Linked DNA regions of Homo sapiens. The protein of the gene in region 1 purifies or fractionates together with the protein of each later gene. This does not show direct contact. Each region holds a gene or a part of one and is shown on either strand. Other genes may lie near its edges.

The links.
Region 2: the proteins of RHOBTB3 (region 1) and PCYOX1 purify together in Homo sapiens (co-immunoprecipitation; 3 studies listed by BioGRID and IntAct, with this or other methods). This does not show direct contact.

Annotation. Positions count from the first base shown.
Region 1 is NC_000005.10:95,750,853-95,766,165, forward strand, and holds part of RHOBTB3 (rho-related BTB domain-containing protein 3), read left to right. Parts: intron 1-1,386; coding exon 1,387-1,498; intron 1,499-4,543; coding exon 4,544-4,909; intron 4,910-12,655; coding exon 12,656-12,768; intron 12,769-15,313. UniProt on the Homo sapiens protein: Rab9-regulated ATPase required for endosome to Golgi transport. Involved in transport vesicle docking at the Golgi complex, possibly by participating in release M6PRBP1/TIP47 from vesicles to permit their efficient docking and fusion at the Golgi.
Region 2 is NC_000002.12:70,252,835-70,268,147, forward strand, and holds the start of PCYOX1 (prenylcysteine oxidase 1 precursor), read left to right. Parts: upstream 1-5,302; 5' UTR 5,303-5,330; coding exon 5,331-5,442; intron 5,443-6,525; coding exon 6,526-6,732; intron 6,733-8,377; coding exon 8,378-8,552; intron 8,553-15,313. UniProt on the Homo sapiens protein: Prenylcysteine oxidase that cleaves the thioether bond of prenyl-L-cysteines, such as farnesylcysteine and geranylgeranylcysteine. Only active against free prenylcysteines and not prenylcysteine residues within prenylated proteins or peptides.

The DNA.
Region 1 (15,313 bases):
GAATGGGTGGTCTTAGGGCTCAGGAATTAGGGATCAGCTCTCCCTTTGCTGTATGAACCTCTGAAGAATCTGAGAATTTAAATATAAATCTTGCCTGCCAGGCTTTTATGATGATGTATTTGTCAAAACAGAAGTATAGAATATCTTTTATATAACAGTTTGTTTTCTTGATTTACAGCGTTTAAATATTTAGGTGTGTGGTGGGTGGGCCTCCATTTGGACTTTTGCCCCAGGCCTTGCAAGCTAGGGCACAGGCCTGAAGCTACGTAAATGCACCTGAGAGAGATTTTTAGTTTGTAAAGGACAGATTTTAAAGAAATTTGTTCAAGAGAAGAAAGCGAAGTTTCCTGGCTCATGGGAACATCTGTAGACATAGAGGCAGCTCTGTTCCTGCTTTAATTTCACTAATATTAACTGTGGTGGTTGCCCACTGAGAAAATTATTACCAGCCACACAATTGTAGTGCTTGGCTTTCTCGAGTATTCAAGAGAGTAGCTGCGTGGGATGGCATGCACTTATAATCCCAGTGACTTGGAAGGCTGAGGCGGGAGGATCCCTTGAGTCCAGGAGTTTGAGTCTAGCTTGAGCAACATAGTGATACTCCATTTCTAAAATTAAAAAAAAAAAAAAGAATATATATATATATTTGTTAAATTTGAAAAAGAGAACCAACAATTCCTTCCTTGAAAAAAAAACTTTTATTTTAGGTTCAGGGGTACATATTTGTTATACGGGTAAATTGCATGTCACAGGGGTTTAGTGTTCAGATTATTTCACTAACCAGGTAATAAACATAGTACATGGTAGATAGTTTTCTGATCCTCACCCTCCTCCCTCCCACCACCCTCTCAAGTAGGCTCTGGTGTCTGCCGGTCACTTCTTTGTGTCCATATGTACTCAATGTTTAGCTCCCACTTATAAGTGAGAACATGTGGTATTTGGTTTCTTGTTCCTGTTAGTTCGTTTAGGATAATGGCCTCTAGCTCCATCCATTTTGCCGCAAAGGACATAGTTTCATTCTTTTTATGTCTGCATAGTATTCCATCGTGTATATGCGCCACGTTTTCTTTATCCAGTCTATCGGTGATGGACATTTAAGTTGACTCTATGTCATTGCTGTTGTGAATAGTGCATGTTTCTTTGTGGCAGAATGATTAATAACAATTCCTTCTTGAGTGGATAGTTTATTTATGTTCAGAGAAGGCACAATCTGCTCCACTCGATTCATTTTTTAAATAAAAACATTGTTTATATGTGTTTGCTAATGCATACGTATAAATGGTACTGACGTTTAAAATGTTTGACAATTGTGACTTCAGATGCAAATTTTCATGTTGGATATATAGTTTTGTTGGATCTTCAATTAAAATTTGATTCCTGTTTTAGTTGGAGTATTTTATGATTCAAGCCTTAAATCAGAAGACAAGTGAAAAAATGAAGAAAAGAAAAATGAGCAACTCCTTTCATGGAATTAGACCACCTCAACTTGAACAACCAGGTGCATTTCTTAGCCAATGTCTAGACATTCATTAAACATTCATTACAGATCCTTTCTCACAGGTCTTAGAGCAATTATTCTCAAACTTGAGCATGCTCAGAGCTTACCTGACATTCTGATTCAGTCAACCTGGGATAAGGCCTAGAATCTGTGTTAATCAGCCTCCCAAGTGATGCAAAAGCAGATTGGTACTTGAATCACATTTTGAGAAATACTGCTTTAAAAATTGAGCCTATAGATCCTATGTGTCCTAGGTGGGGAGCTGTTCTAGATTAAAGTCTAATGCTAAGTTACTACTAAATGCAATGCATGAACCTTGATTGGATACTGGTTCAATAAAAACATCTAAAAGATGTTCTTGGGACATGGGTTAAATTTTAATACGGACTGGAAATTAGATTATATCATGTAATTACTGTTAATTTTCTTATGCATCATAATGGTATTGTGATGAATAGGAGAATGTTCCTGTTCCCAGGAGATGAAGGTGAACGTAGAGTCCCGGGCGCGGTGGCTCACACCTGTAATCCCAGCACTTTGGGAGGCCGAGGTGGGAGGATCACAAGGTCAGGAGATCGAGACCATCCTGGCTAACACGGTGAAACCCCGTCTCCACTAAAAATACAAAAAAATTAGCCGGGTGAGGTGGCAGGCGCCTGTAGTCCCAGCTACTCGGGAGGCTGAGGCAGGAGAATGACGTGAACCCAGGAGGCGGAGCTTGCAGTGAGCAGAGATTGTGCCACTGCACTGCACTCTGGCCTGGGCGACAGAGCAAGACTCTGTCTCAAAAAAAAAAAAGAAAGTGTTTTAGAGCCAAAGGATCCTGATATCTGCAACTTTTAAATATTTCAGCTGTGTGTATGTGTGTGTGTTGATGTGTGGATGTGTGTGTGTGTGTGTGTGTGTGTGTGTGTGTCTTTCTGTCTCTCTAGAGATAAGGGGAAAATAAAAAATGTTAATAATTGCAAAATCCACGTGAGGGATATATGTGAAGGGTATATGTGTGTTCATTGCATCATTCTTTCAACTTTTTTGACTGTTTGAAAATATTTTTAATACAAAGTTCAGGGCAAATAAACTTTAAAATAAATAAATTATATCAACTGTTATCAGAATTTTCTGCATGATTTTGTAATAGAAATAGTAGGATAGCACTTTGTTGGATCAATGTCCTTTGGAATTTAAGGGACCTCATCTCTTTAAAAAAGTGCAGATATATAGACCACATATATATATAAATGATACACACTTGGCTTTTAATTTCCTGGTGTGCAAAGTGAAAGGGGAGACATGGTCTATTAGGTTGCAAACCCTTGGGCCTTAAATCCTTTCTGGATTAGAAAATGGGTGGGAAATGACCACATAAATAATGTAGATAGTTAGTTCTTAGTTCTTATTAATCAAGAAGACAAAATATACCAGATCCTCAGAGAAAGCAAAACATTACATGTCATTTAGCTTTAAAAGAAATATCTTGGCCCAGGTATGGTGGCTCATGCCTATAATTCCAGCACTTTGGGAGGCCAAGGTGGGCAGATCACCAGGGGTCAGGAGTTCGAGACCAGTCTGGCCAACATGGTGAAACCCCGTTTCTACTAAAAATACAAAAATTAGCCGGGCATGATGGCGACGCCTGTAGTCCCAGCTACTCGGAAGGCTGAGGCAGAGCTGCATGAACCAGGGTGGCAGAGGTTGCAGTGAGCCAAGATCATACCACTGCACTCCAGTGAGACTCTGTCTCAAAAAAAAAGAAAAGAAAAGAAAAGAAAAATCTCTTGTGTGGGTCTTCATGTGAGGGCACTAAGTGATATAGTGGACAGGGCTTTCAAAAGTGTCTCTTCAGGAAATGCAGCCTCAGCGTTCACAAGGCTGTTTCTTGTACTCTTCTGTTAAGAGAGCTGTGTGTATAACACTAAAGATATTCCAGAGGTTCAGAATAATACAGTCTGGGTACATATTTGGGGCTGATTTGTTCCAAGGACGGATCCTGGGCTCTGGGGCACATGGCATTTAGGGTTCTGTAAAGGGGCCACAGGCAGTAGAAGGGAGGAGGGTGGACTGGAATACAGTGCAGGGAGAGCCTGGCCTCCAAAGGACTTCGTTATTATCTGTTTTATAGGCTGGGGTTTGCTTTGGAATCAAGCATTTTTATTGCTAAAGAAGTTTGAATTCTACTGATTTAGACGGTTGCATACCCTTCAAACAACCCTTCACAAATGTCACTTTCCTCAGCTCCTCTGGATAAAAATGAGATGGCAGATGTTTTACAGTTAGGGTCTGTGGTGAGGGCCTGGAGTGTAGGTATTCTGAGTTGATTGAGGGCTCATCTCTCTTTGTTGGTGATCAAACTAGTAAACTGAAGGTTATATTCTCTTTTAGAAATTAGGGAGCTGAGTTAGCACTTTTGCTGAAGTGTTTTACTAGAAGGAAAAAATGCTAGTTTTGGAATCCAAATAAAGGGGTCACAATGTTTTCAAACGATCGAGTTCAAGACTCTGAGCCTTGACTCTGAGAAGTTGCACAATTTTAACAGCTCAGCCCTCTACCTCTACTTCTGGTCCCAGGAGGAAAAGGACTTCAGATGTGAGATTGGGTTCTTTGGAACTTATTCAGTACTTTGAATTTTTAAAATCAAAGGTAAAAGTAAAGAAGGATGACTGTGAAATACTAAAGTTCAGTATTTGGCGGCTTGTTTTATTTTGGGACACACAAGTAAGAAGAAATGTTATTTTATTGTTCCGTACGTCATTAGTGGGTTTTTCATTTGCTCTATAAAATGTAAATAAACATAGTATTTGTGTGTCTGTGTTATAACATTCTACAGTTCCTGAATAATTAGTTTATATATGTTTATAAATTAGGTTAAGCAGTAGTAGAAAATCGCTGTTTTTGTGCATCAAAAAATGGTTAAATATTGGCTGTTTCTTATGCTTTAACCTAATAATATTTTAAAATATTATACAATTATATTTAAAGTAAACATGAAATTGTTGGGTCTGTAAACCTGAAAGGAGTTTATTATTTTTATTTTCTTTTTCAAAACAGAAAAAATGCCTGTCTTAAAGGCTGAAGCGTCACATTATAACTCTGACTTAAATAACTTGCTGTTCTGCTGCCAGTGTGTGGACGTGGTATTTTACAACCCCAATTTAAAGAAAGTTGTAGAGGCCCACAAGATCGTTCTCTGCGCTGTAAGCCATGTTTTCATGCTGCTTTTCAATGTGAAGAGTCCCACTGACATTCAGGATTCCAGTATCATCCGAACTACCCAGGATCTTTTTGCTATAAACAGAGATACTGCATTTCCAGGTGCTAGCCATGAATCTTCAGGCAACCCACCATTACGAGTCATTGTTAAAGACGCCCTCTTCTGTTCTTGTTTATCAGACATCCTTCGCTTCATTTATTCAGGTATCTTGTCAAGTGGTTCTGGTTACTTACAATCTCATAAGCTTTGGAAATGAAATGTGCCTGTGACACTCAAGGGTACTGGTTAGTTTTACAGTGGTCTTTACCTACCATCTGAGATTAAGATTATACATGAAATATTATTTGCTTTATATATAAGAATTGGTCCAAGCTTTCTGTTTTCCTTACAAATGTACTTGCCTCATCTTTTCCCTATCAATTTCATTTTATTGTGGTAAAATACATAGAACATAAATTTTACCATCTTAACCATTTTTAAGAACACAGTTCAGTGGAATTAAACACATTCATAATGTTGTGTAACTATCACCACCATCCGTGTCCATAATTCTTTGCATCTTATAAAACTGAAACTCTATACCCATTAAACGATGATTCCCCATTCCGACCTCTTTCCAGCCCCTGACAGCCACCATTCTACTTTCTGTCTCTGTGATTTTAACTCTCCTAAGTGCCTCATGTAAGTGGAATCATACAGTATTTGTCATTTTGTGATTGATGTATTTTACTTAGCATAATGTCTTAAAGGTTCATCCAAGTTGTGGCATGTATCAGGATTTTCTTCCTTTTAAGGTTGATAATATTCTGTAGTACATATAGACCACATTTTGTTTACCCATTCATTCATCCATGGACGCTTGGGTTGCTTCCACTGTTTTAGCTATTGTGAGTAATGCTGCTGTGAACATAGTGTACAAATATCTCTTTTGAGACTCTGCTTTTATTTTATTTTTTGCATATATACACAGAAGTGGAATTGCTGGATCACATGGTAATTCTGTTTTTGATTTTTTACTGCCATACTGTTTTCCACACTAGCTATACCACTTTATGTGCCTACAAACTGTGCACAAGGGTTCCAATTTCTCCACATCCTTGCCAACACTTGCTGTTTATTTTTTTTAATAGTAGCCATCTTAATGGGTTTGATGTGGTATCTAATTCTGGTATTGATTTGCATTTCCCTAATGATTAGTGATATCAAGCATCTTTTCATATGTTTTTGTATTTGCCTTGGTTTTAAATCTACTTGTAAAAACCATAATCTGCCAAACAAGTATGTTAATATTTTATTTCTTTAAAAAACATCCAAAATATGAAATGTGAGAATTTATTGTCCAATTTAGTTTTAAAGACATAAAATATTCCAAGAGTAAATGAAATCAAGTGTCTACACCTTAAAACCTAGCTATTCACTCTTCGGTTTGACTCTTAGGTTTTGTAGGGCGTGAAAGAGAGAATTGCATTCAGCTTACGGACTGGAAATCAATATCCAGTGTTAGTTGAGGTCTAATTAACTTTGGCTATGACTATCATAGACGTTACTTTTTTTTTTCCTTACTGTGCCCTTTCTTTTTAAGATTTAGCTTATCAAGTATTTTTCTCTTTGCCCTTTTAAAAACTCAGTAGCAACTATATTTTAAAGATGGAAGTTCTATCTGAGTCATTTTAGCAAATGAATTGAAGGTCTTACATCTAAGTGTCCCATGTAAGAGTGGAAAAGAACAGATGTAAAATGAATTTTAATGTAAGCATCTAAATATAAGTTTTCTCAGAACTCCTGTCTTTAATTTTCTTTACCCACTTCAAATCATGTAGCGATAACCTGTTAGGCTAAGGTCACTCCTGCTCTGCAGTGTGTCTGGAGAAACATTTATAATTAATTTGTTTTTAGGGTTCAAGTAAAGCCTAATTGGGAACAGACAAAAAGTTTAAGGTTTGCAAGGCAAGTATCATTTCATACAGGTAGGGAAATTTGGGGCAGCCTTTATTTAAGTAATTGATGTTAAAAATAAGGTATTACTTTGTTCATGTGGTTTGTGGTCATGTAATTTTATAAGTTAAAACTTAAATTATGATTTTGAAAAGTACAGTTGCAGCACGCAGATTTATGTGGATAAAAAATACATATTGGAGTAGAATGTGGTGCTAGGTTAGTGAAATATTGGCTTGGAAAAAGCATAAATTAAGCACCTGTACAGCACACACCCAGCACATTGCCTTCAACGGGTTCTCTGTAAGTTTTAGTTGAATTAAAGAGTAGGCTCCAGTAGCCGGGCATCATCATATCAGTAAGCCAAACTATTTAAAGACTTCATTTAGTACTATAGATTTTGACGTTTAAACTTAGAATGTCACAGTTCAGAATTTAAGATTTTGAAAAACTAACATGTTTACATGTTAAGAGAAAAAAGATGTTTTTAATCATATGTTTAAGGAACTGTGAGGGATGTGACTTTTGTATGATAATTTTCTGTTGAAATTACATGAATTATTCAGTAGGCTTCCACAATTATTATTGACTACTTTCAAAGGCATATGAGCACTCTGACGTCTTATATCCTTTTTAACATAGTAGCAGTAAAATAGCTAGATGTATCTCCAGTGGCTGATCCTGCCTAGCTTTCTCCTAGGGGGAGTGCTTTATTTAATTGCAAAATTAATACAGGCAGATGGAAAAAAAGAGAAAGAAAAGAAAAAAGTTATCCTTCTACCCTAGACCCTTTCCCCGGAGTCATTTACCTGTTGTAATTTTTTTATGCACTCATTCTGATACTGTTTGAAAGAGATTAATATTCTGGGGACATTTGATTAATAAAAGTGTAATCCTAGGTATCTGCTGCTTTCCAGGGATCACAGGCCGTTTCCCATGGCTGGAGCGTAGAGTGAAAGGTGATGGCTGGTGGGTGATGAGGTGGGCAAGGCCTGTGGAAGCTGTTCCTGCTGCTCTTAGACTTGTGCTAGAGTTTTAAGCATGATCAGACTGGGCTTTAGAAAGCTCATCTCTGGTTGTGGTTGCAGGGTGGAACAGTGCGGCCAAGACAGGCATTCAATCAGGAGGTCCCATTACTCTGGCGATCAGCCTCAGGAAGGCCAACATTCAGACAGTGGGTGGCCCTGCCATTGGCCCTTCATCGTCTAGACCAGTGCTTTTCAAACCTTAAAGTGTGTGCAGATCATCTGAGGATCTTGTTCCTGTGGAGATTCTGATTCAGTTACCTGGAGTGGGGCATGAGATTCTGCATTTCCAGTAGTCTCCGAGGTGGTGCTGGATCTCTGGACTGCCAGAAGCAGCTGGAATACCTGCTTTTGGAAGAACTGGGAACCAGCCAAAACCAGCAAACTAGGGCCTAGAATTCAGTGCAGAGGCCCAGGAAGGCTACCAAGTTAACAGCTTAGGATTCAAAGTAAAAATGGGGTGAGCTGTAAGGCTGACTGATGCAGTGCTATTCAGAACTGGGGCTCTCAGTGCCCTGTGTGTCCCTGACGCGAGGAAAAATGGATGCCTAGTGGTTGGGTGGAAATTAAGTAAGCCTGGAATAGGGATCGGAGGGCAGGCAGGCATGATGGTGTGGAGAGCCTGCTGAGCTACAGGTCTTCAACCAGTTCAGAGTCCTGGCTTCTTAACCTGACACTGACCCGTCCCATTTCGGCTGTGATCTCTCCTTGTACGTCACGGCCAAAGCCGGAGGTGCTGTCTGGTCTGAGCAGGGGCACGGGCCATTGACCCGGGGCTGCAGAGATCCAGATGCTGGTTAAGGAAAAGGGAAAATAACTGGTTCTGCAGGTATCTATTTATTATTCTTTAATTATTTACAGATTACAACCTCTGGCTCAAGGAAAAGTTTCATTTACATTATGTTAAAAAGAGATATCAAAGCTGTATTTGCACAGAAAAGACAATTTTGAAAAATGCTGAAAATTAAGAGAAAAAAATTTACCCAGATTCCACTATCAACAGAAAATGTTTAAACATTTATTGCTTTGTTTGATCCTCTAGTCATTTGTTTGTGTATGAATAAGTGACACTGTTTTTGAAAAAATGTATTTTGTAATCAAATCAAACAAAAATTTTAAACCTACGTTTTTCTCAGAGACTTCAGTAAATGGGCCAGGCTTGTTTTGTTTTGTTTTTGTTTTAACATTTTTAAACCTGTGAATAGAATACAAGTGTTAAGGCACAGTTATGCAGTGGTTTTCCCACAGAAGTGCTGTGGTCTGCCCTTGGGTTATGCTAGAGAACCATTGAAGACAGGAGTTGTTTGTTTGTGTTCCCATCAGATGGGTTGGTAAAGCAGAGGTTGAACTCCATCATGTGCTCAGGAATATTTGCCTTGAGCAAACACGGGCTAGAGAGTTATAATAAGCCTATCTCCTGTCCTTGTTTTTTTTTTTTTTAAAGAACCAGATTACAAAGAATATCTTAATTCTTTTTAAATAACATGCTTTTTTTAACCTTTAGGAATTTGAAATTTGGTGTGTGTTATGTCACCATGAACATTTGGTTCGTTATTTAGGAGCGACCTGTTTAACAACAGTCCGGTTAACATTTTACACCTATCTATTCCTATTCAAATTTTTGATTCAGTAGACACAGTCAAGGTATATCTGTTTTGTATACGTTAGTTTTCTATTGAATAACAACAAACACTGCATAATGTATAAGTACTTAACTACTAATCCTAAGGAACGAGGAGTAATGTGATAAGTGAAGCCAGCCCTTTCCTGGTCTTCAGGGAGTAATTCTTACATGGCATACAATTGTAACATTCTTATAATACTTGATACAGTGTTATGGTTGCACATTCTTGAGTCATATGATCTCAGATGGTTAGGAAGTGAAGTATTTGTAAGAACCTCAAGAATTTAGCTTTGAGCTCTTCCTGCCACAGATGGCCCTTAGAGTTTCACATCACTTATTGAAATGCCATCTGAGTAGACAAATATGTGGAAGCAAGCTTTCATCTTCAGTTTACATTCTCCAGTTCTTAGAATCATTCCGTGGCATGTCCTTTTCTGTATTGCATAAAAACACAGCCTAGTATACATGAGTATACCATGCGCTCTAAAAGTCTAAGTGGATTCAGTGCTTTAAGAAGTTAACTAAAGAAAATCCCAGTCAGTGATGCAAGATGTCATCCTGCCCTTGTCTGCAGTTGATCAATCAGTAAAGTTATGCAAGATGAGTAAGTTCTGGAGACCTGCTGTATGACATTGTGCCTATTGTTAATGATATCGCATTATATACTTAAAGTTTTCTAAGAGGGTAAATCTGATGTTAAATGTTTTTACCACTGGAAAAATAAAAGGAAAGTCCCAGCCTTAGGATTACTGGTTTATTAGGACCTAAAAGTCTCAAAGATGACTTGATTAATGTTTCTAATTATGAAAACAGCCCAATCAGCAGTGTGCTCTTGAGAATTAGTCTTACTTTCATTTTCAGTGAGTGATTCTTCCTGTGTGTGTTCTCAGACAGTTCAGTGGCCTGTGGGGATTTACCTGCTACTGATTCCATCTATTTAGATTATTTGATGCTTGCTTGCTTTTAGATAATCTTCTGAATGGAGATATTTTATAGGTGTTTTTTAGTTAATATGCTTTTACTTAAATAACAATGTAACTTTTACATATATAAGTATGTAAAAGAACACAGAGACAGTACTTATGTTCTTCTTTAGATTGGATGAGTGCAGACATAAAAAATACTTACATGTTCCCTTTCCTGCATACCACTAACACTGGGTTTGGATAATGGCTGAAATTTCTTTCCTTTTTCCTCTTTTTTTTTTTTTTTTTTTTTGAGACAGGGTCTCACTCTGTCACTCAGGCTGGAGTGCAGTGGCATGATCATGGCTCACTGAAATCTCCGCCTCCTGGGTTCAAGCGATTCTCCTGCCTCAGCCTCCCAGGTAGCTGGGATTACAGGCAGACGCCACCATGCCCAGCTAATTTTTGTATTTTTAGTAGAGATAGGGTTTCCCCATGTTGGCCAGGCTGGTCTCGAACTCAGTGGTTGAAATTTCTAAAGGGAAAGCAGTGGCCGTCAGCAGCATACCATGCACATTAGGGTCACCAGGGAGAATTTTAAAACACTGATGCCAGGGGCTTCAGGCCCAGAAATTCTAATTCACTTGATCTGGAGATGAGACCTCCTCTCATGGTATTTTATAAAAGATCTCAGGTATTTATAATACACAGGTATGGTTGATAATCACTGGCATAGAGTAATTTTATTGATCTGGGATCCATTGGCTTCTAAGGGGTTCTTACACTCTCACATTGTTATACTGACTTTAATGTTTGTGTGCACATGAAATTTTCTGGTCATACAATCCCAAGAATTTATGAGATGGGAAAAGAGGATGTGGCCACACAGTTAAAAAGCATTCATGCAGAAAGAGAAAAACAGAAATCATAGAGCTCTTCTACACTACACAGCTTTGAGAATTTGAGGAGGAAGGGGAGCAATCAGTGAAAGCATAAAAAGAGCTAGCAAAGGCAGAAAGAAGCAGTGGTGTGCTGGAGCTGGCACCAGCTTGTGAGAGCCCAGTTGTGTTTATCATCCCCATTTCCTTGTTCTGTGATGTCATGTTGATAGCATCAAAAAATGGCAAATGCTACATATCATTTGACTCCCTCCCCCAGGAGACACTGTAAGTATTAGGAAGGCCAGGTGGGGAGAAGTTGAAAGGATATGCATTAGTGCTTAGTGCTGCAGGGCTCAGCTGTAAGAGCCTGAGAGCTTCTGGACTTGCAATCTGCCCCTTCCAATTGGATTTGGTTTTAGTTGGTACAGACTGGCTGCAATTGCCTGATCTCATTGGTTTAATAAGTGTTTATGTGCCTGCCTCATTCCCCAATATCCATGAAGGCATCTGGTGAGTGCTGAATACAGGAATGAAAACATCAGAAGAAATGAACTGAGAGCAGATAAAAAAGGGTCTTGAATTACCCAGAGAGGTGAAGTGACTCATCACACTAGTAGTTAATAGCTGAGGTAGAACTGGATCCTAGGTCTCCTAACTATACCGCCCACACTAGGCTTCTTGAATTATATTTTTATGAGATAGGACCTTCTATAAATCATAGGATGGATGCGTGTAATCTCTTGGAATGTCATGATCAGATTCGTGCTTTTGAAAACTCACCAGCTTTGAGTAATAGGATGGATTTGATGGGGAAAAGGCTGTTAGGAAGCAGGGAGGTTGGATAGGAAGTTGCTGCAGACCAAGTAAGAGAAGTCCTTGGGGAAAAGGTCAGCTTTTGCTGACCATAGAATAAGAATTTTGCAAGACATAGAGGAAAAGAGGCTGACAGAGTGGGAGAAGTGAAATGAGCCTAGGAAGAGAGTTTTGAAGTGGGCTAGGGAAAGGCAAAGGACAGTGGGGTGATTTTGCTCCGATGACATGAGCTACGTGGACGAGTAGCTCCCTTCCTCAGGCTGGTTTTGTAGAGTTGGCTCTCAAGCATCCCAGTCTGCCCCTGACAATGCTTGAGACCTTCTGAATGCATTCTGTTGCTGCTGCATGTTCCTCTACCTGATGATAGTCACTGCTGCCCATAACTGGTAAGATTTAATTCACCCTTGGGAAAGACCACATCTACCTTTTTACTCAGGGCAAGTAAATAATTTGGGTGCTGGACCACTTGTCATGGGAACTCATATTCTGACCATTGCTGTTATCACTAGCTGCCCACCTATTGCAGAGAGGTAGCAGCAGTCTGGGGAGGAAGACTTCAGATTTTGAGAAATAATTTAGGGGAAGTTAAACTGATCGTTTTGAAATGTGAGTACTGTTTAAATGTTTTAGTATAGTTATAAGGATGTATATCTGGTAAAGAAAAATTAAAGCACTAAAAAAAGGGAATGTTGTATTTAATAAGAGATTTACTTTTGTTACTTCCTCATTTAACAGAAAAATCCAGCATGTACTAATTTGTTTACAGGTGCTTTTCAGTGGGAAGAATTGGAAGAAGATATCAGGAAGAAGTTGAAAGATTCTGGGGATGTTTCAAATGTAATCGAGAAAGTTAAATGCATTTTAAAAACACCAGGAAAGGTAAGTTGATTTGTTGTAAGTTAGTTTACTTTGACCCTCTGAATTATAACTCACATACTATGATGAATATAAAATTGAGTCGTTAGAAGAGTCAAATACTGTATAAATGTAAATGTTTTCCTTAAGTATATTTTACCATTTAAATATTTAAAACATAAACATGGGTTATTTGTATCTTAGATTGTGTGTGTGTGTGTGTGTGTGTGTGTGAGACAGAGACCTGTGTTGCCCAGGTGGGAGTGCGTTGGCATGATCTTGGCTTACTGCAGCCTCCACCTCCTGGGCTCAAGTGATATCTCCCACCTCAGCCTCCCAAGGAGCTGGGACTATAGATATGCATCACCATACCTGGCTAATTTTTAAATTTTTTGTAGAGACGTGGTTTTTCCATGTTGCCCAGGCTAGTCTCAAACTCCTGGGCTCAAGCGATCTGCCCACCGTAGCCTCCCAAGGTGCTGGGATTACAGGCATGAGCCACCACACTCGGCCCTATCTTAGACTTTAATTTATGTAAGAATTAAAATACATGTGAGTCATGTCTTTAAAATGCTCGTTTGCGAATTCTGCCTTCTGAAACATTCCCCTGGAGCTCTGGGAATACACAATCTATATCATGAATAAAAGGCTGTTTAATTTGTCCAGGTACAGTTAAGGTTATTAGAGAGGGTGCCTTCTCACTCCTCACAATTTAAGTCTCAAATAGTTTTTGAGAGGAAGGCAGTTTTGAATGTCCCTTTTTCAAGTGTTCTGAGAAATCTATTCAACGAGGTGGACAGTTAAGGATGATCTCATCAATTATAGGTTCAAAATTATAAATTAGATTCAAGTTTATAAAAACAGACTTTGTATATTGCCATAGACTGGTGCACATTAAAACTCTAGTAACTTGGTATTGTGTAGTCTGTAAGGGCTTTAAAAAACATTTCAAAACTTTAAGACATTACACAATTTAGCCAGTGTATTTTTTTGTCTGATTTTGTGATAAACAAATTGGCTGCAGTAGATAAGTAAGGTAAGTTATATGCAATACTTAGCGGAGTAAAGGTATATATTAACTATAAGAAAAATGATGATTCCTTTAATTTTTTAATATAGATGACTTTTCTGTTTTCTAAAACCTGTTAACATTTTAAAGTTAATGTTTTACAAAAATGAAACTGTACTAGCTTTTAGTGAAGATTCTTGATTGTTCTTTAGTTGAGAAAATAGTCTTTTTTGTAAACAAAGTAACGTGGAATTAAGGGGTAAGATTTTTTTTTTTTTAGTAACACATTGAAGCAGGTATACAGAAGCTGTCCAGTTTTACAAGTATATGGCAGGATGGTAGCTCTTGCAGTCTAATTCAACTAAATAATCATTTGTAAAAATTTGCACATATGCCTATATTCTCGTTTTCAAAACAGTTCATCTAGTTGTCTTGATTAACTTGTTTACGGACCAGTGAAAATGTACATCACGTACATTTGTGTTCTCTCAAACTTCTGCTCTCCCATTTTTTTCAAATTCAAAACAGAATTGATGAGGGAATCTGTTTATAGATTCTCTCCCTCTCTCTCCAGTTCTCTCATACATTCATGTGTAATATACATCTATAAAATATTCATAATATGCAAATTCATAACCTTTATATGGCTGACAAGTACAGAAATCTTGCCTTTTCTTCTAACCCTAAACCTTTTCTTGAGTCTTGATTCGGAACACATTCCTTTGAATACTGAGAATAAAATGAATTCTTATTGGGGAAAGGGAAGGCTGGGTGATACGATTCCATGGTATTGCGCTGAATTCCCTCCTCTGCACGGGGAGAAAGAAGAGTTATTTCACACCTTCTTCCTGTGCTTTCCCAGGGTAAGGGGCTGTCTCATTTACTGAGTACCACACAGGGGTGTAACTCTGAATTGGGACTTGGGAAATGTAGATTACAATTGTGAATCTGCCACAAATCATCTCTGTGGCTTTGAGCAAGTCAGGGCTTCCTATAAAATGAGGGGTAAATTGGATGGTTTCTGAAGCCTCTGCGAGCTCTCCAATTCAGTGACGCTTTTTGTTTTTGTTTTTTGAGACGGAGTCTCGCTCTATCGCCCAGGCTGGAATGCAGTGGTGTGATCTCTGCTCACTGCAAGCTCCGCCTCCCGGGTTCATGCCATTCTCCTGCCTCAGCCTCCCGAGTAGTTGGGACTACAGGCGCCCGCCACCACACCCAGCTAATGTTTTTGTATTTTGAGTGGAGACGGGGTTTCACCGTGTTAGCCAGGATGGTCTCGATCTCCTGACCTTGTGATCCTCCCGCCTCGGCCTCCCAAAGTGCTGGGATTACAGGCATGAGCCACCGTGCCCAGCCCGGTGATGCTTTTTGACTGCTACTCTCGTTAAGCGTGGCGGTCACTTGACTCCCATGCCCGAATTCCTTCCATGTGTATGACGGTTATGTTGTGTATAGGATCTCAGAATGACTTTATAGGACCAGGATTTGTATGATCCTGTTTTGCCTCTCTGTTTTGCTTATGGATACCATTCTGGAATGTTTTCTTCTGCCTTAGGAGGA
Region 2 (15,313 bases), on another chromosome or scaffold:
ATCCGCCTGCCTCGGCCTCCCAAAGTGCTGGGATTACAGGCATGAGCCACCATGCCCGGCCCACGCCCAGCTAATTTTTGTATTCTTTGTAGAGACGGAGGTCTCACTTTGTTGCCCAGATTGGTCTCAAATTGCTGGGCTCAAGTGATGCACCAGCCTCGGCCTCCCAAAATGCTGGAATTACAGGTGTGAGCCACTGCGCCCAGTCCTGGCCTAATAGTTTTTTAATAGTTGCAAAATCGTCCATAAAATGAAAGTTCCCCAATGTATTGAATGGTAAATTGAATAAATTACCATAACTGGCATTGATGGATATTCAGGTTACTACTTTTCAAAAACCTATTGTATTACAAATAATGTTGCAGTTGTATCCTGGTACATGTACCTTTTTTTTTTTTTTTTTTTTTTTTGGAGGTTGGGGGGCAGAGTCTCACTCTGTGCCCAGACTGGAATGCAGTACCACAATCACTGCTCACCTCAGCCTCTACCTCCCAGGCTCAGGTGATCCTCCTGCCTCAGCCTCCTGAGTAGCTGGGACTACAGGTGCACACCACCATGCCAGGCTAATTTTTTTGTATTTTTTCGTAGAAACGGGGTTTCGCCATTTTGCTCAGGCTGGTCTCGAACCCTGGGCTCAAATCGTCCGCCTGCCCTAGCCTCCCAAAGTGCTGGGATTACAGGTGTGAGCCACTGAGCCCAGCCTCTTTCTCCAAGTTTAACTTTATTTTGTATCCAACCTATTTTCTTCTCATCTATATTGTTCTTCATGTTCATGTACTAGTTATTTTTGTTTGTTTGTTTGGGTGAAGTATTGTAATTACAGAAATGAGACTTTTTTTTTTTAAATGAAAGGCCTCACATATTTATTACTGAACCCAGCCAACCAATGCGTTCATAACAGATTCGGAGAGGAAAACACGTCGAACTCTCCAGATAGGGGTGACATTTTCAGCTTGATATGGTAACGTGATCGTGACCTTCAGACAGCATAAATATGTGTGCCATCTCATGTACAATTCCTTATAGACCCAGCTTGGTTCTTCTCCAATGTCTCCTTTTGGAGTTGTACCTGATTTTATTTCCAGTTTTCATCCGAATCCACTGGGGAATGGGACGATTTTGCTTTTGTTTCTTGGGCAGGAATCACTTAATCCTGAAAGTCTTGTGAGAAGACATGGTGAGGGTGGAGTCAAGAACACACCACGATGGCAGAGAAAGGAAAAGAGGCATGAGATCATTTTATACCCATCATGCAACCACAAGCTTTTCTCAACTGATAATACTAGGACATTAGTTATAGACCCATTTTTTTTTTTTTTGAGACGGAGTCTCACTCTGTCGCCCAGGTTGGAGTGCAGTGGCGTAATCTTGGCTCACTGCAGCCTCTGCCTCCTGGGTTCAAGCAATTGTCCTGTCTCAGCGTTCCTGAGTAGCTGGGATTACAGGTGTGCGCTACCACGCCTGGCTGATTTTTATATTTTTAGTAGTAGAGACAGGGTTTCACCATGTTGACCAGCCTGGTCTCAAATTCCTGACCTCAGGTGATCTGCCTGCTTCAGCCTCCCAAAGTGCTGGGATTACAGGTGTGAGCCACTGCGCCAAGCTCCAACATTCTTTTTTTGTAATTTTTTTTTTTTTTGAGATCAGCCTGTCAGGTTGGAGTGCAGTGGTGCAATCTCAGCTCACTGCAACCTTGGCCTCCCAAGTTCAAGTGATTCTCCTGCCTCAACCTCCCAAGTAGGTGGGATTACAGGCATGCATCACCACGCCCAGCTAATTTTTGTATTCTTAGTAGAGGCAGAGTTTTGCCACGTTGGCCAGGCTGGTCTTGAACTCCTGACCTCAGATATTCTGCCTGCCTTGGTCTCCCAGAGTGCTGGGATTACAGGCGTGAGCCACCGTGCCTGGCTTCCTTTTAATGCATGCATAATGTTCTATTGTATGGTATGTTGGGGAGAAAAAAAGAGTTTTCCTCTACCCTTCCGAGGTTTTGGTTGTGATAGACCCCTGTAACAAAAGACAGATTAACAAGAAGAAAACAAACAGGACCAGGCATGGTGGCTCATGCCTGTAATCCCAACACTTTGGGAGCCCAGGAGTTCCAGACCAGCCTGGGCAATATGGCAAAAAACCATCTCTACAAAAAATGTAAAAATTAGCTGGGCATGGTAGTGGATGCCTGTGGTCCCAGGTACTCTACTCTGGTGGCTGAGGTGGGTGGATCGCTTGAGCCCAGGAGCGAGAGGTTGCAGTGAGCCGTGATAGTGCCATTGCACTTCAGCCTGGGTGACAGAGCGAAGCCATCTCAAAATAAATAAAAGAAAGAAAGAAAAAAAGAAAAACAGAAATTTAAAAACATGTACGTCACGTATTCAAAAGAGAGACCAGGGAAATGAGCAAATCTCCAAGAGGTAGCTTTGAATTCAGGATTATACAGCATCTTCAAAAAAGAACAGTATATGTTTAGAGAAGTGTTAAGAGAACCGGGCACAGTGACTCACGCCTGTAATTCCAGCACTTTGGGAGGCCGAGGTGGGCGGATCACCTGAGGTCGGGAGTTCGAGACCAGCCTAACCAACACGGAGAAACCCCATCTCTACTAAAAATACAAAATTAGCTGGGTGTGGTGGCGCTTCCCTATAATCCCAGCTACTCAGGAGGCTGAGGCAGGAGAATTGCTTGAACCCGAGAGGCGGACGTTGCCGTGAGACTGCGCCATTGCACTCCAGCCTGGGCAACAAGAGCGAAACTTCGTCTCAAAAAAAAAAAAAAAAAGAAAGAAAGAAAAAAAAAGAGAAGTGTTAAGAGAAGGAAAATGATTTTGAGTCTCTAGGGGTGGCAAATTATGGGAAGGCAAATACGCGATAGAAAAAGGCTCATTAATGAAGTTTGTCATGTAGATTCCTGGCTGATAAAGGTTTGTCAAAAGACAAAATTACAACTAATTTAGTTTAAAGAGCATAATTGGCTTTTAGTTGCGATTGTAGAATTGTGCAACACCTCATTTTATAAAATCGAATGAGTGTTCCTATGAGTTGAGTGGAGGAGGTTGGCTTTCAGAAAGGGCTGAAGAAAGCAGAAACAGAAAAGTGCATTGGTTGTTTCGAGGTTACTTTCCTTGAAAAGTTTAAAGCAGAGGGTATTTCCTTATCATGTCACTTCAAACTGGTCTGTCGGGAATTTGGCTATTATTTTTCTTTCTCCTGATTTCTTAGAAAGTCAGATCGACAACTTAGTTTTGACCTTGTGATGTGGAACATGAGTGACTTGAGTGACTCCATTTTGGTTTAGTCTGTTGGGCCTAGTCTAGTGCAGGAGCTCAGTCCAAACCAATGGCTTCCTATGAATTTTATTTAACAGGCGTAAAATTGTCTTTAGTGATTAACCTTTGTCCTTCCAGGCAGTGTGGGAAGAGGGATACCTTTGCCTTTTAAAATTTATGTCCTGCTTTACTTCAGACATTACACTAAATAGGAGTGTTGAGTATAAAAATGAATTCACAATTAAAGTTGTTAAATTATTTGTATATAACTTTAAAAGGAGTTTTTTTGAAGCTTTGTAATTACATTGAAAGTATATTTGTTTCCTTGAAAACAATTTTTTGAAAAGTGAATAATAATATAATACAGCTTTCAAATTACTTTATGCTGTTACTTTATTTCTATTGTATTCACATGTGAAAGTATGTGATCAGTTGTTGCTGTATCAGAGATATTAGAGATTCTTTATTAGTTGGGCATTCTTTATGACCTTTTCTATAAAAGAGTAAGGACATTAAAATGTAAGATGCATGATAAAAATATAAGTAGCGAGGCTCATTGTAGTTAGCCTAAATTAAGTAATGTTTAAGGTAGGTGTTCATGGCCAGGCGCGGTGGCTCACACCTGTAATCCCAGCACTTTGTGAGGCCGAGGCGGGTGGATCATGAGGTCAGGAGATCGAGACCATCCTGGCTGACACACTGAAACCTCGTCTCTACTAAAAATACACAAAATTAGCCAGGCACGGTGGCGGGTGCCTGTAGTCCCAGCTACAGGCTGAGGCAGAAGAATTGCTTGAACCCGGGACGTAGAGTTTGCAGTGAGCTGAGATCGCACCACTGCACTCCAGACTGGGCAACAGAGCGAGACTCCGTCTCAAAAAAAAAAAAAAAAAGTAAGTGTTCAGAGTAATACTTTTCTACATTATACTGAGAGAAATTATAAATTATAAAGTATATCAAATTATATTATTTTACTAATTTTACTTTTATGTAATAAAATGCAATATATTTAAAAATTGTTAAAAAAATAAAATTTATGTCCTGCTTTTAGGCAAATGGGGAAGGCGGAGAACTTTCCACCCACGTATCTACATCGTATCTACATCTTCTCAATTGTCTTCGGCTTGAAATAATCCTTAGGCTAAAGAGGCGTATTTTGGGGTGGCACATTCTGGTGTCCTTACAGGTACACTACTTTTATTCATGTCTGTTACTACTATTACACCCCCTTCACCTTGGGCCACCCCATCCTCAGTCTCCCTCATTTTTCTTTACAGTTAGCACCATTTACCCATTCACGGAGAACCTTACAGTTCTCGCAACAGGGTGATCACTCAGTAAGTACTGTTGTCCCTTTGGTCTGTTTCTGGCAGCGATTAGCTGTGCGCATTCTTTGAGAGGAGCGACGGAGGGAACAGAAGAGGGTACTAGTGAAGAACTAAGGTGCTTCACCCAAATAGATAGGGAAGGAGGAGGAGAGCTGAGGCGAGCCTCAGCTTCTGCCTTTTTTTTTTTTTTTTTTTTTTTGAGACGGAGTCTGGCTCTGTCTCCCAGGCTGGAGTGCAGTGGCGCAATCTCGGCTCACTGCAAGCTCCGCCTCCCGGGTTCACGCCATTCTCCTGCCTCAGCCTCCCGAGTAGCTGGGACTACAGGCGCCCGCCACTATGCCGAGCTAAATTTTTGTATTTTTAGTAGAGACGGGGTTTCACCGTGTTAGCCAGGATGGTCTCGATCTCCTGACCTCATGATCCACCCACCTCGGCCTCCCAAAGTGCTGGGATTACAGGCTTGAGCCACCGCGCCCGGCCAGCTTCTGCCTTCGATGTCTTCTGAAGGAGGGTGGGCTTCGAGGCGGCAGGATGTGCTTAGGGCACTGAGTGGCCCAGAGTGGGGAGCTCCTGCAGGGTTGAGAGGACCGGCGGGGCGAGGTCGGGGCGGGGCTCGCAGGACCTGGGCGGGGCTCGCAGGGGCTGGGCGGCCTGGGGGCGGGGCTGGGCGGAGCGCGCAGCCGCGCAGCGGTGGGAGGACTGCGGGGCTCTTGAGGCCAGCTGCAGAGCTTGTGGAGGCCATGGGGCGCGTCGTCGCGGAGCTCGTCTCCTCGCTGCTGGGGTTGTGGCTGTTGCTGTGCAGCTGCGGATGCCCCGAGGGCGCCGAGCTGCGTGCTCCGCCAGATAAAATCGGTAGGCGAGAAGGGGGCGGCGCGGGAAGGTGCTGGAGCGCGCCCCGCGCCGGGCGGCCGCTGCGCAGTGCGCCCAGATCCCACAGCCGCGACGCAGTCCAGCGGTGCAGGCCGAGCCAGCTGCGCAGGTCGCGCTTTCCCCCATTCACACTTCAGGGCGGCTTTCAGCTCTGGTCGGAATAGGACTGTGCATTCCCAGGCGTGGAGAGGTGCCCACTTGAGGAATGGGCGTGGACGGGGACAGGGGCGGGCGGGCAGGCAGGCGCCTAGCGTACCTGTAGCCCCTGTCTCTTAGGTGTGGGGCTCCGGGGAGGCCTAGGTTTCTCTATCTTCCCGTTGAACACTGACCGTGAAGACTCCAGTGTTCTGGCTTGACCTGGGGCGCCCGGCCAGATTAACAGGCTCACGCAGGCACAGCACAGGGAGGAGTGCAAACAAGTTGACCCTGCCTGCTTCCCTTGGGAGGCTGAACCGCCTTCCCCCAGCTCCGCTTTGCTGAGGTCGGCCTGCTCTCAGAGGCCCTTGGCTTGCACAGTTTCTCCGCCTAGGACTAACACAGCTGCAGAAAGAATCTGTTCTCTTTCCACTGTCAAGAGCTCCAGTGTCAGGAGCCTTGGCTCTTTGCTTCCTGTCTCCCTCCCGCCCCCCTTTAAAGTTGTGTTCTTCGGTATCATTAACCTATCTACATTGAATCTAGACACAACAAAGCTAGGCATAAATGGCCGTCACTTTATTAAAAATGCGTGCTGGAAAGGTCCACCTCTAATGTGCCCGTGAGTTGGGCATCTGGAAGGGTGTGCAGGCCCCTTGGTTCCTCCATAAAGACCTGTGAGAATCTTTGGGCATCTGGAAAAAAAATCGAGTTAATGTCAATATGTTAATTAATCTACTGCTTTTGTCTGGGAACAGTGTCTGTCCAGATTCAGGGAGTTAGACCTTCGCTGCAGGTGTCACTCTTCCCCCACCAAATTGTTGGTAATAGCTTTGAGTAACAACCTCTGCTATTGATGGTCTTTCAAAAACAAAACAACTCACAGAGCTGGTAAAAGGGGAAAATATAATCTTCTGTTTTTTTCCCTCATAGCGATTATTGGAGCCGGAATTGGTGGCACTTCAGCAGCCTATTACCTGCGGCAGAAATTTGGGAAAGATGTGAAGATAGACCTGTTTGAAAGAGAAGAGGTCGGGGGCCGCCTGGCTACCATGATGGTGCAGGGGCAAGAATACGAGGCAGGAGGTTCTGTCATCCATCCTTTAAATCTGCACATGAAACGTTTTGTCAAAGACCTGGGTATGTAATTTTGGTCTTGGAGCTCACCAGATTACTGTGTGACATCCCCGGATATTTTTATCAGATGGAGAACTGAAATTTCTGCCTTGTTAATTGCCTTACAGAGACGTTGGTAAAACTGTTTTCCTCACTTTCTTGTTAGTTGGTACTGCCTGAGTTAGGAGCAGTTCTGCTGTAATGGGACACTAGTTGTCTGTATCTTCAGTTATCTGGAATTACAGCCATGGGGTGGGGGTGGGAATGGCTGCCATTGTCTTTTTTTTTCTTTTGAGGAGTTTCGCTCTTGTCGCTCAGGCTGGAGTGCAATGGTGCGATCTTGGCTCACTGCAACCTCTGCCTCCCGGGTTCAAGCGATTCTCCTGCCTTAGCCTCCTGAGTAGCTGGGATTACAGGTGCCTGCCACCACGCCCAGCTAATTTTTGTATTTTCAGTAGTGACGGGGTTTCACCATGTTGGCCAGCTGGTCTTGAACTCCTGACCTCAGGTGATCCGCCTGCCTTGGCCTTCCAAAGTGCTGGGATTACAGGGGTGAGCCACCGTGCCCGGCCTCTGTTGTCTGTTCTTAAAATTCTGGGTTTGTGTTAAAGAATCAGAGAAGGTTTGGAGATAGTCATCTCATTGTGATCATTTTGCAGCTGAGTAAATGAGACCCAGAGACTTGAATTGTCTGGCTCAAAGTCACTCACATATGGCCATGGCCAGGGTCAGTGGCTCATGCCTGTAATCCCAGCACTTTGGGAGGCCGAGGCAGAGGATCACTTGAGCCCAGGAGTTAGAAACCAGTCTGGGCAACATAGTGAGATCCTGTCTTTACTAAAAATAAAAAAGTTAGCCTGGTGTGATGGCACAAACCTGTAGTCCCAGCTTCTTGGGAGGCAGAGGCAGGAGGATCCCTTGAGCCTGGGAGATAGAAGCTGCAGTGAGCCTTGCATGCCACTGCACTCCAGCCTGGGCAACAAAGTGAGACCCTATCAAAACAAACCACCACCAACAAAACAAACTCCGTCACACAGCTGTGGATGCAGACACGTGCCTAGAACTTGGGATGTGCAACTGCTGCCCTGACAGCAGAGGAGCTGGATAGGTCATGGGGAAAGTCTGACAGGCCTCTGGAGGCCCTTTCGGCAGGGAGTATTTTGTAACTTTGGCCTCCTTCCAGTTATCTGAAATATCCAGTTTTGCAAAATAGGATTCTCACAGGAATGGAAGTGCCTCAGCTGCCTTCCACATCCTCTGTAGATGCTGCCTCTGCTTCCGTTTCCTCCACGAGGGCGAAGGTATACCCAGAACAAATTATGCCACGAAGATGCATGTCTGACATCTTTGTTTTTAAATTGAATTCAGTTGGTACTCTGGCTTTTTTCCTTTGACTATCCAGTTTTTTTAGACTTTTAGTCTAAAAATAGCCAGGTAAAAATATATCTACTTTTGATATATTAATATTTACATGATCATCTGACCCATCGCCTAGCAAATCTGCTTTTGGACAGTGTAGTGAAAGTATAGTGTTTCACACTGTTCCAAAGATAGAGCTCCTTTATGTGTCTCCTGAGAACTGAGGGAAGCCCCAAATTCACTCAGATTACGTTCTTTCATTTGATCAGCATAGACACCACTGACTTAGCTGTGCTTTATGTTTTTGCAGGTCTCTCTGCTGTTCAGGCCTCTGGTGGCCTACTGGGGATATATAATGGAGAGACTCTGGTATTTGAGGAGAGCAACTGGTTCATAATTAACGTGATTAAATTAGTTTGGCGCTATGGATTTCAATCCCTCCGTATGCACATGTGGGTAGAGGACGTGTTAGACAAGTTCATGAGGTAATTTTTTTTCCTTCCATTTAACCTAAGATCTTTTAATTTAGGTTAAATTAAACTTGATGAACTTTAGGAATTATGATTTCTTGTAAGCATTTTCTACCTCACAGCAAGGCCTGTTTATAACATTGTTAGGCAAAATGTTTTGTAGAAACTATGCAGACTATTTGCTTGGATATTGAAAGGTTGGTTTATTTTTGCTTCTGAAGTGTATTTTGCAAATGCTTCTTTAGTGTTGCCAGATACTGTTAGATGCCTTGAATTCTTATGACAACTTACTCTGGTAGGTACTGTTTTTAGCTTCTTTAAACAGATGCAGAAGGTGGCGGTGTAGAGAGGTTTTAAAAGGCAAGTTCACCCACATAGTAAGTGGTATAGCTGGAGTTGCCACCCAGGCAGTCTGGCCTTTGAGTCTTCACTCTTAATCTCTATGCTGTGCTGGTGTTGTGTATATGAATTGAGATAATGTGTACAAGAGCTTGTAGAAAGGATCAGAAAACTTAAATGGCCTTTAATAGTGACATGTTTTCAGTGAACCAGCAGCCTGAAGTAGAGTAAAAGTTCCATATTCCAAGAATTTACATTCTAGCACTGTTTTGGGTAGTGAGAATTCAGGTGCCTCTTTTTCGTCCTTATGCTTTTCTATATTTAAACAGTTTTTTTAATGCGTGTGAATATGTATCACTTTGGTAATCAGGAAGACTAACATAAAATAGCCAGTCTAATTTTGAAAGGTACAATCTGTATTTTTAAAGCTGTTGGCATGTTCTAGTTTTTTAGTTTTTTTGTTTTTTTGTTTTTGAGATGGAGTTTCGCTTGTTGCCTAGGCTGGAGTGCAATGGTTCGATATTGGCTCACTGCAACCTCTGCCTCTTGGGTTCAAGCGATACTCCTGCCTCAGGCTCCCGAGTAGCTGGGATTACAGATGCCTGCCACCACGCCCAGCTAATTTTTGTATTTTTAGTAGAGATGGGGTTTCACCCTCTTGGCCAGGCTGGTCTCGAACTCCTGACCTCAGGTGATCCACCTGCCTCGGCCTCCCAAAGTGCTGGGATTACAGGTGTGAGCTACCGAGCTTGGCCGGCATGTGCTAATTTTTTTTTTTTTTTTTTTTGAGATGGAGTTTTGCTCTGTCGCCCGGGCTGGAGTGCAGTGGCACCATCTCGGCTCACTGCAACCTCTGCCTCCCTGGTTCAAGCGATTCTCCTGCCTCAGACTCCCGAATAGCTGGGATTACAGGTGCCTGCCACTGTGCCTGGCTAATTTTTTGTATTTTTAGTAGAGACGGGGTTTCACTGTGTTAGCCAGGATGGTCTTGATCTCCTGACCTCGTGATCCGCCTGCCTCAGCCTCCCAAAGTGTTGGGATTGCAGGCATGAGCCACTGTGCCCGGCTAGCACATGCTAATTTTTATGCTGCTTTACAGTTTTAGGTACTGGAGGCCAGGATCGCATCATTACACTCCAGCCTGGGTGACAGAACAAGATTCCATCTTGAGGGGAAAAACAAAACAAAACAAAACATGTCATATGACCAGGTATTGAACAGGACAAATATGAGTTAAGCAGGGCTGGGCACAGTGGCTTATGCCTCTAATCCCAGAATTTTGGGAGGCTGAGGCTGGTGGATCACCTGAGGTCAGGAGTTTGAGACCAGCCTGACCAACATGGTAAAACCCTGTCTCTACAAAAAATATAAAAATTTAGCCGGCGTGGTGGTGCATGCCTGTAATCCCAGCTACTTGTGAGCCTGAGGCAGGAGAATCACTTGAACCTGGGAGGCAGAGGTTGCAGTGAGCCACGATCGTGCCATTACACTCTAGCCTGGGGGACAGAGCCAGACTGTCTAAAAAAAAAAAAAAGAAAGCTAAGCAGGATATGCTCTGGTTTCTATAACTCATGGTAGTTTGGGGTTTCTTTCTTTCTCAACATCATTCTTAGGTCAGTTCCTTAAATGCCTTTCCCGTGGGTACCTTAAGTCCATCTACAGTGCATAATGTTTTTAAGTAGCCATTCATTCATTCACCCAATATTGAATACCTGTTAGGTGCTAGGCATTGTTCTATGTTGAGAGTATAGGACCTACAACATGTCCTTGTCCTCAAAGAATATATATTCTAGTGGAGAGACAGGCAATACACAACCAAGGAAATATATAGAATTTGCGTAGAGACGGCCAGTCACTTTATAGAAGGTGGGTGGCATGGTGCTGCATACTCAGCAGGCAGATCAAGTTCTGATGGCATCAGCCCTGCTTGTGTGTATTGTTTTTCTTTTCTTTTCTTTTTTTTTTTTGAGATAGAGTCTCGTTTTGTCGCCCAGGCTGGAGTGCAGTGGCGGGATCTCGGCTTACTGCAACATCTGCCTCCCAGGTTCAAGTGATTCTCCTGCCTCAGCCTCCTGAGTAGCTGGGACTACAGGCACATGCCACCATGCCTGGTTAATTTTTTGTATTTTTAGTAGAGATGTGGTTTCACCGTGTTAGCCAGGCTGGTCTCAAACTCCTGACCTTGTGATCTGCCTGTCTCGGCTTCCCAAAGTGTTGGGATTATAGGCGTGAGCCACTGTGCCCGGCCCTCTTTTTTTTTTTTTTTTTTTTGATACAGGTCTCACTCTGTCACCCAGGCTGGAGTGCAGTGGTGTGATCATGGCTCACTGCAGCCTGGACCTCCTGGGCTCAGGGGATCTGCCTACCTTAGCCTCTGTGTAGCTGGGACTACAGGCACGTGCCATCAGATCTGGCTAATTTTTTGTATTTTTTTTGTAGAGATGAGGTTTGGCCATGTTGCCCAGGCTGGTCTTGAATTCCTGGGCTCGAGTGTTCCACTCACCTGGGCCTCCCAAAGTGTTGGGATTACGGTTGTGAGCTCCTGTTCCCAGCCTTGTTTTTTTTTTTATCTGTGGCTTGCTTGAGATGTAGAGAATTGCCCTTTGAGAAATTAAGAAATTACTTTTTTTTTTTTGAGATGAGTTTCACTCTGTCACCCAGGCTGGAGTGCAGTGGTGCAATCTCGGCTCACTGCAACCTCTGCCTCCTGAGTCCAAGCGATTCTCCTGCCTCAGCCTCCTGAGTAGCTGGGATTACAGGCATGTGCCACCATACCCAGATAATTTTTTTATTTTTAGTAGAGATGGGGTTTTACCATGTTGGCTAGGCTGGTCTCAAACTCCTGGCCTTAATTGATCTGCCCGCCTTGGCCTCCTAAAGTGCTGCGATTACAGGCATGAGCCACCGCACCTGGCCTAAGAAATCACTTTTGAAGTGAATTCAAGGTATTACAGAACTGGGAAAAAGAACCAGTGAGGGGATACATAGGTTATACTGTTTTTGACTTTAAAAAATAATTTACGGGCCGGGCGCGGTGGCACACGCCTGTAATCCCAGCACTTTGGGAGGCCAAGGCAGATAGATCTTGAGGTCAGGAGTTCGAGACCAGCCTGGCCAACATGGTGAAACTCCGCCTTGCTAAAAATACAAAAATTAGCTGGGTGTGGAGGCGCAGCTAATGCCAGCTACTTGGGAGGCTGAGGCAGTAGAATCGCTTGAACCCAGGAAGCGGAGGTTGTGGTGAGCCAAGATCAAAGTATACACAAGGTGGAGAAAGACCTATGTAACAGTAGTAAACCATGACACTCGAAAGAGGGCTCAAGCTTGTGGTAGGCAATACTCGAAAACAGTGCATTCATTCATTCTCTGCTGTTGGAGGTACTTGAGTGGAAATCCTGCAGCCCCTGACATCAGCACTAGCTAGCTTAATTTCCACTTCTGCACATACATTTATGTAGTTGTTCTGGTTGGATGCCATTCTTAACTAATTTTTTTTTTTTTTTTTTTTTTGAGACCAAGTCTTGCTCCGTCACCCAGGCTGGAGTACGGTGGTGCAATCACAGCTCACTGCAGCTTTGACCTCCTGGTCTCAAGTCATCTTCCAGCCTCAGCTGGGACTATAGGCATGTGCCATCATGCTTGGCTAATTTTTTAAATTTTTGTAGAGACAGGGTGTTGCCATGTTGCCCAAGCTGATCTTGAACTCCTGGGCTCAAGTGATCCTCCCACCTTGGCCTCCCAAAGTGTTGGGATTACAGGCGTGAGCCACCGCGCTCAGCCGGATGCCATTCTTTACTCCCAAGTCCAACCTCTTATCTCACTTTTTCAGCAAAGCATTTCCTTAATGCTTCAATCAACATTCATCTTTCTTTTCAAACATCCCTTATTATACGGTGCACACTGTGTGCTTGTGTTCTATGCTACGCACAGTAACTAGAATGTAGTAGATGTTTACTCAGATGTTTGTGGAATTTAAATCTCTGGTCTGCTGATGGCTTCCTGTTGAGATATCTTGGCTTGTAGACTAGGTTAAAGCTTATTCTTCTCTCTCAAGTTAGTGCATTTCTGGGGACTTGTAAGATCCTTAACACTTCTTGATCTGAGACTGATAGACTCACAGGGAAAGGCTTTATAAACACCCTTTCTTCCTTCCAGTTACTCCTACCAAATATTTTGAGTCAATTTTTGTTCTTTCATTTCCCAAACCCACTCTATCTTGAATCCCATCAGCCTTTAAAATACATCCAGTATTCCACTACTTCTCTCCAGGATTACTGCTACCACTTTGTTCCAAGTCACCACCACTGTCTCTTGTCTGGATTGCTAGAGTAGCCTCCTATTATAGGCTGAATAATCCTCTCCCCTGCTGTCTGCCACAAGATGTCCATGTCTTAATTCCTGGAACCTGTGAATGTGTTACCTTTTGAGGTAAAAGAGACGTTGCAGATATGGTTAAGGATGGGTAGATTATTCTGGATTATCTAGGTGGGCCCAATATAATCACAAGGGTCCTTAGAGAGGCAGGAGGATCAGGGTAGGTAGTAGGAGATGTGATGATGGAAGGAAGAGATTGGAGTGATGCTAGGAAGGGGTGTGCGTCCACGAGCCAAGGAATGCAGGTGGCCTGTAGAGGCTGGAAAAGACAGTCTTCCCTCAGAGCTTCTAGAAGGAACCAGCCTTGTGCACACCTTGATTTTAGCCCGGAGAGACTGACTTTGGTCTTCTAATTTACAGAACCGTAAGATTATAACTTTTTTTTTTTTTGTTAGTATTTATTAATCATTCTTGGGTGTTCTTCGGAGAGGGGGATTTGGCAGGGTCATAGGACAATAGTGGAGGGAAGGTCAGCGGATAAACATGTGAACAAAGGTCTCTGGTTTTCCTAGGCAGAGGGCCCTGCCGCCTTCCGCAGTGTTTGTGTCCCTGGGTACTTGAGATTAGGGAGTGGTGATGACTCTTAACGAGTATGCTGCCTTCAAGCATCTGTTTAACAAAGCACATCTTGCACCGCCCTTAATCCATTTAACCCTTAGTGGACACAGCACATGTTTCAGAGAGCATGGGGTTGGGGGTAAGGTCATAGATAAACAGCATTCCAAGGCAGAAGAATTTCTCTTACTACAGAACAAAATGGAGTCTCCTATGTCCACCTCTTTCTACACAGACACAGTAACAATCCGATCTCTCCTTCCTTTCCCCACATTTCCCCCACTTCTATTCGACAAAACTGCCATCGTCATCATGGCCCGTTCTCAATGAGCTATTGGGTACACCTCCCAGACGGGGTGGCGGCTGGGCAGAGGGGCTCCTCACTTCCCAGACAGGGCGGCTGCTGGGCGGAGGGGCTCCTCACTTCTCAGAGAGGGCGGCTGGTCAGAGAGGCTCCTCACCTCCCAGACGGGATGGCGGCGGGGCAGAGACACTCCTCAGTTCCCAGACGGCGTCGCGGCCGGGCAGAGGCGCTCTTCACATCTCAGACGGGGCGGCGGGGCAGAGGCGCTCCCCACATCCCAGACGATGGGCAGCCGGGCAGAGACGCTCCTCACTTCCTAGACGGGATGACGGCCGGGAAGAGGCGCTCCTCACTTCCCAGACTGGGCGGCCGGGCAGAGGAGTTCCTCACATCCCAGACGATGGGCGGCCAGGCAAAGACACTCCTCACTTCCTAGACGGGGTGGCGGCTGGGCAGAGGCTGCAATCTCAGCACTTTTGGGAGGTCAAGGCAGGCGGCTGGGAGGTGGAGGTTGTAGCGAGCCGAGATCACGCCACTGCACTCCAGCCTGGGCAACATTGAGCACTGAGTGAGCGACACTCCGTCTGCAATCCTGGCACCTCGGGAGGCCGAGGCTGGCAGATCACTCATGGTCAGGAACTGGAGACCAGCCCGGCCAACACGGTGAAACCCCGTCTCCACCAAAAAATACGAAAACCAGTCAGGCGTGGCGGCGCGCGCCTGCAATCCCAGGCACTTGGCAGGCTGAAGCAGGAGAATCAGGCAGGGAGGTTGCAGTGAGTCGAGATGGCAGCAGTACAGTCCAGCCTTGGCTCGGCATCAGAGGGAGACCGTGGAGAGGGAGAGGGGGAGGGGGAGGGGGAGAGGGAGAGCTGTTTTTTGTTTTGAGACAGAGTCTTGCTCTGTCACCCAGGCTGGAGTGCAGTGGCACAATCTTGGCTCACTGCAGCCTCCGCCTCCTGGGTTCAAGCAGTTCTCTGCCTCAGCCTCCCGAGTAGTTGGGATCACAGGCGCCCACCACCATGCCCGGCTAATTTTTGTATTTTTAGTAGAGATGGGGTTTCACCATCTTGGCCAGGCAGGTCTTGCACTCCTGACCTCGTGATCCACCCGCCTCAGCCTCCCAAAGTGCTGGGATTACAGGTGTGAGCCACTGCACCCGGCCGTAAATTTGTGTTGTTTTAAGCCACTAAGTTTGTGGTAA